Regions from separate parts of the Homo sapiens genome. Here region 2 is linked to region 1. A link means that fine-mapping ties the variant in region 1 to the plasma level of a protein whose gene starts in the linked region. Region 1 holds a variant in brackets. A gene starts in the other region. All regions are shown on their reverse strands.

Region 1 (2,909 bases):
TCCCAACCAGCTGGGATAGAAGATGCCATCTGATTGGAATATGAAAATTAAAGCATTTCTCTAATAACATAGTACCATTGATGAAGTCTCCATAGATTTTCTAACCCAAATGTGTGTGAATATATATATATTATATGAGAGTGTATAATATATATATATAATAATTTCTATATATTTTATATAAATTACATATATATATCTATATATAAATAAGATACTTTCTGTCGCCATTACGTTGCACCGTTCAGAGCTGCAAGACAGCAGTACAGATAGGGAGAAATGCCCAGGAGCATCTCATCATGTGGTGCATTTAGCTCACTTCACAAGCCGTGCAGCTGTCCAGAGTCTGTCTTTCCATCAGTCCTCCTCTTTTCTCTTCACTTCTGCTTGGTTTTTATGAAAACAATGGCTCTGATGGATTTTGCACCTGTGCTAGCGCTTGGGAAAGGTCCATGCAGGAATGGGCACAGTCACATGATGAATGAGATGGCATCATCCCAAAAAATAAACTGAAACAAACAAAAACTTAAAAAAAAAAAAAGAACAGGACTAGAAAACTTAATTTTTTTTGACATATCTAAAAAAGGGGACAAGAACAGTAGCATTTGTTCTCCCCATGGGGACAGGAATGAAGAGGGAGGAGGGAAGAGGGACTTGATTTCTTCTGTTCACAAGAGAATGGTTGGAGGGGATTCTTCAGAGTTTTTCAGGGGATGGGACCCAAATGTAGTGCCCAGACTGGTCCTCAATGATTTGTTTGATTTTGTTATAAATCTCTTCCAGTGAGTCACCCTGTACAATGGCTAAAGTGAAGAGGAAAACAAAATTATTACTGTGGTCCATAGCACATCCCCCAAACCCAGCAATCCTGCCTCTCCCAACAATCCTACAAGTCCCCCCTCCACCCCCTCACCCCTCACATGAAGGACATGTTCCCAGGAGTATGGGTTTGGGCTTGGGTTCACTGGCTGGCTGCCTGTGTGTTCAGGGCAGTAAGGGCAACCAACAAGGTACCCCAAGTCCAGGGCTTGAAGTCAACTCACTGAGACAGTGAGACTAAGTAGTAATGACCAGAAAAATGTGTTTATTCAAAAGATGTTTATTGAGCACCCACTATGTGCCAGACCTTGCAGTTCATGTTGTTCTTGGGTGCCATAAGGCCAGCAGCTTGTTATTCTAAAGCAGCCTTACTAAAAGATTTGGAAAATCGCAGTTCTCCACAGAAAGAACTGAAAGCCACAATTTCTGGCAAGAGGCAGCGCTCCTGGGCCCATCACATCTGCTGTATGTCAGAGGTCAGCCCAGCAAACAAGGACATGGATGCTGATGGTAAAGGGAGCTCTGAAGACCCAAGGTGTGTGAGGACATTTATGAATTCTTTACACAGTTAACCTAGTGTCACCACCAGCTAGAATGGATTCGGCACTGCCTTGCATATATTTATGTATATATATGTCACTGTACTTCAAAAGGTGAAGAACGTATTACATAGAAACCTTCCCAATGTTTCAGGAACTGACCTTACACACACACACACACACACACACA[C/G]ACAGACAGACAGACAGACACCCCAACAGACAACTTGAACAGCACACCGAGGAATCATCATCATCAACAAACGTTTATTCAGCACCTAAACATGCAAAGCAAAGTACTGGGGGAGGGGGAGTGGAGCTGAAACGGAGGGAGACAGAGTAATACAGGGAGCCTACAATCTAGTAAGGACAAGACAAAATGAACAAACCAACAATTCAAGGAAGCATTTGGTGAGTGGTTTATGCTATAAACTGGCTGAACTGCTATGGCTGGACACGGGGAACTTGTGTGCTTTGGAAAGGTTTGTGCTCAAAAACTTAAAAGCAACTGGAAACTCCGTGCAAGGTTTCTACATTCTGTCTACACCTCTTTGAGACACTTATAGAAACAGGTACCTGGCTAGTTCCCCAGAACCCCCCGCAGGGCAGCAGGAGTCTTACCTGTAAAGTACTCTCCAAATTCCTGCTCCAGTTTCATGGCTTTGTCATAGATCTTATTTGCTTGTTCATATGTCTGCCTTCGGTTCATTTCCCTGCCAAAGACAGAAGAAAAATAGTTCTGAACCAGATCTTATGTTCTGATTAACCATAAAGGATTATTCCAGGATCCCTAAAAATCTGCTAAGCTGCCCTCTCAGAGCAGCAGTGGCCCGTAGCTAACTCCTCAAACCTGCGTTCAAAAGTCCAACCATGAACATATGCACAAGCCCTCAAAACAGGAGCGCCCAGTGACCAGAGCTGGGGCACAGAGTTTCTTTCAAGTTTCTGCCCAGCAAATCACTTTCTTCTCCATTTCCCTTCCAGACCCGATCTTAGCTTGGTGTGTCTGAGTTCTCAGTTCAACACTTACATAAGGGCTTCAATGGACTTGGGCTTGATGAAAATGGCAATGGGGTAAAGTTGTGCTTGCTGCAGTCTCTTGATAGCATTGCCGGAAACATCTAAGATGCAGTGCTTGCCCTGAAAAAGCAGAGATTGTAACAGCCCAGCCACTCCCTATTCACCAAGTCCCAAGCAGAAATCCAGTGACATTCTAAACATCCACCTTGGCCGGGGGTGGGGGTGAGGGGAGGGGCACGAGGGCCACCCAAAGTGGCCTAAGAAATTCGATCTCTGAAGTAGACAGGCCCTACTTTTTGCTCCTATTACCCAGAAAAGGCCACATCTGTCCAGGGCCCCCTATTCCCTGTTGGGTAATGCTCTGGGGTGAGTTGTATGAAGGAGACAGATAGCTTCGTCAAGGCGCTGGGAGTATGCAGATGTGCTATGGCTTTGGTCAGCAGCACTGTTGGGCAGCTCCTGTGTTGGAAGGATAAGGATCCAAGTGGAACCTTGGCATAAGCATTGGCCTCCCCTTTGAGGCCATCTCCTGTA
Region 2 (2,854 bases), not on the chromosome of region 1:
ATTTCCTATAAGATACACATATGTAGACCTGGCTCAATTTGTTTATTCATCCTTCTTTTAAAATGTATATTCATAAAGCACCTGGTATACACTAGGTTCTGCGTGAATGGGCAAAGATAAATAATAGATGTTCTCCATCCTGATGATTCAGATGAGGAGAGGAGATTAAATAACCATCTAACCACATCAGCAAGCAGAATGGGGGATGTACCTCCAAGAACAGCATGGTGAGGGCACTAAGCTGAGAGCCTGCGGAGATGAGATCTGTCCTGCATCCAAATCACTGTGTGCACATGAGAAAGTCACTGGTCCTTTCTGATTCCCAGCTTCCATTCAGTAAATGGCCAGTTTAGACAAATCAAATGGCAGATACATAGCATGCAAGCTGCACTGCAACAGAAACTGCACGTTGGTCACAGCGTATCTTCCCAATGTGCCTGGATATGGCCTCAGAATCATTTCCAACACAGAGCTCCAGTCCACCACTAATCAATGAAACCTACTAGCTATCCCTGAATTAGACATTTTCTAGGGTTCCCACCAAGCTTCTTTGCAGCAAAAGTCAGAGAAACCAGGAGAAGGTCCCAAAGAGATCCACTATCTGATTTCAGAAAGGACTAAGACTAAAGGCTTTATAGAAAACCCATAAGCTTTTACAGAGCTCCGTTGGGAGTCCCATGTTTCTTTATGGCATAATGGGTGAGAACACAGACTTGGAAGCCAAACCACCTGAATTTGAACCCCAGTTCCATTTACCAACTGTCAAAAGCTTAGGCTTTGATTCTGAGCCTGTTTCCTCAACTGCTGTTCTAAAGATTAAATAGGCTAATATTCATAAGGCAACTGGGACAGTGGCTTGTGTGTATAGCAACCATTATATAAGTGAATTATCTACTGAGCACCACAGCACTTCTTCACTCCATGGTGTGGTGACCAGAATGGAGATGAGACAGAGAACTGCAGGTTCTGCTTCGAGTTTAAGTTAGGATTTCCCTTGACCAATGAGACCTGACTTGGAGGAGTCCTGGCCTCATTCCATTACCCCAAACACCCTCTAGTCTCTAGATGAACAGATCCTGAATGTCCAGGCCCCACGTGGCCTGTTCTAAGGCCTGAGATGGAATTGGATACAGGACACATCCAGCCTTGAGATCTTTTGCTAAGTGTGACACAGTGCCCCCAGCCCTGTGCTCATGTTCATGCCTAGGGAAAGGCTTCTATCAAAAGAGTTGAACTTCTTCCCACTGGGGATGGAAGACCATTTCCTCCCTTAAACCTTGGCTCTCCCTGCTTCCTTCAGGCCACCAACAACACATGTGCAGGATATGAAATTGCTGAGGCATCACTGCTTTCCTACTTCCCTTCCAAGTCTCAGCTCCCTTATTTTAAAAAATATTTGGCCTCAATGATCATTTCTCAACAATTCCTCACCGCAGGAGCCTCTGAAGCTCCCACCAGGCCAGCTCTCCTCCCACAACAGCTTCCCACAGCATGAAGATCTCCGTGGCTGCCATTCCCTTCTTCCTCCTCATCACCATCGCCCTAGGGACCAAGACTGAATCCTCCTCACGTGAGTGCAATGCCTTGTCTTCCTTCCAACCTAGAGCCTGCAGGGAAATAAGCAGGAGTGAGGTTGGGGCTCAGGGGAAGACCAGGAGCAGGGACTCAGAAAGGAGGGCTGGTATCTTCTTGAAATTGTGTGTATAGCAACATTATATAAATGAATTATCTACTGAGCACCACAGCACTTCACCCCATGGTGTGGTGAGCAGGATGGAGATGAGACTTAGGACTGTAGGTTCTGCTTAAGAGTTTAAGTTGGGATCTTCCAGCCTTGACCAATGAGACTTGACTTGGGAGACTCCAGGCTTCATTCCACTACCCCAAATGCCCTCTAGTCTCCAAATAAACAGATCCTGAATCTCCAGGCCTCACATGGCCTTGATCTCTTATCATTGCCCCCCAGGACCAGTCCCCCCTTGCCCTCAAGGACATGGAGTGAGACCAGCCTGCCTCTCTACTCCCTCAATTTCTCTCTCTTTGCCGCTAAGCAAAAGAGTGGCCCACCCCATTTGGGGTATATTTCCTCAGGGAGATTAGGAGCAGTGTCTTGAGCCCCTCAAGGGCATTTTTCTATTGGCCTCCTGAGGTTTGGGCCCAGCCTGCTTCCAGCGTCACCTGTGCCCAGTGAGTGCAGCATTGCTTGGGTATGGGCTGGGGGGAAACACGACAGTGTGGGGTCCATCCTAGGCCCCCTTTTCTCAGCTGATTTCTTAGAATAAGCTGCCTTTAGAGATAACCAAAACTATTTATCACTCTTCCATTTTACCTACTCTCCTTTTCAGAAACTGGGGGGAAACCGAAGGTTGTTAAAATACAGCTAAAGTTGGTGGGTATGTGCACAGTTTGACTTGCCCTCTCCGATGTCATTTGTCAGCTCAGAGGAACAAGGTGGGAGAGTATAGGAGCTCTGACTGGGTCTCAGGAAACAGGGGCCCCTTATGCCGTTCTTTGGATCGTGAGGATGCTGCCTGGAATGGAGCTGGAAAACAGGATGAGACCCTTCCACCCAGACATCTGGCCACCCTCAGTGACCTCTGAGGCCATTGTGATGCACATCCATGATTCTATGAAGCAGGGTCACATAACATGCACACACCTGATTTCTCCACTCCATAACCACAACATGTGCCTGTTTGTACAGGGCTCTTGGCCTACAATGTCCTTCCTGCTACCTCTATAATTCAAGCTTGGGGTGGCTGCTGTCACCTTGCTTCTCCTATAAAAGCCATGAAACTTCTCAATCAGAAAATAGATGAAAAAATCACCCAATCCAGTGATTTTTAAAACTTTT

Alleles and levels. Positions count from the first base shown, and alleles are read on the strand shown. Strength reflects both the effect of a copy and how common the allele is.
For the plasma level of the protein whose gene starts at base 1,412 in region 2, allele C in region 1 goes with a lower level than allele G (weak association).

Evidence for each region. A credible set is the group of variants that fine-mapping cannot tell apart. PIP is the posterior inclusion probability: the model's chance that the variant is causal. Protein levels are from antibody-based Olink assays in UK Biobank. Linkage for the fine-mapping came from a reference panel and not from the study's own genotypes, which makes the PIPs less certain.
Region 2: CCL14 starts here. The variant in region 1 is the best candidate, but not a certain one, in a credible set for the plasma level of the CCL14 protein (UK Biobank, PIP 0.52).

What each region holds. Positions count from the first base shown.
Region 1 is chrX:70,500,057-70,502,965 of GRCh38, reverse strand. It overlaps DLG3 (discs large MAGUK scaffold protein 3), which reads right to left. Exons shown (of 19, transcript NM_021120.4): 17 at 2,386-2,495; 18 at 1,977-2,068; 19 at 1-803. The coding sequence ends at 697. Among named protein-coding and RNA genes, the nearest start is that of DLG3-AS1, 46 kb to the right of the region's middle. The variant C/G (reference allele first, on the strand shown) is at 1,549.
Region 2 is chr17:35,985,287-35,988,140 of GRCh38, reverse strand. It overlaps CCL14 (C-C motif chemokine ligand 14), which reads left to right and starts at 1,412. Exons shown (of 3, transcript NM_032963.4): 1 at 1,412-1,570. The coding sequence starts at 1,492. CCL15-CCL14 (CCL15-CCL14 readthrough (NMD candidate)) reads left to right here. Exons shown (of 7, transcript NR_027922.3): 5 at 1,437-1,570.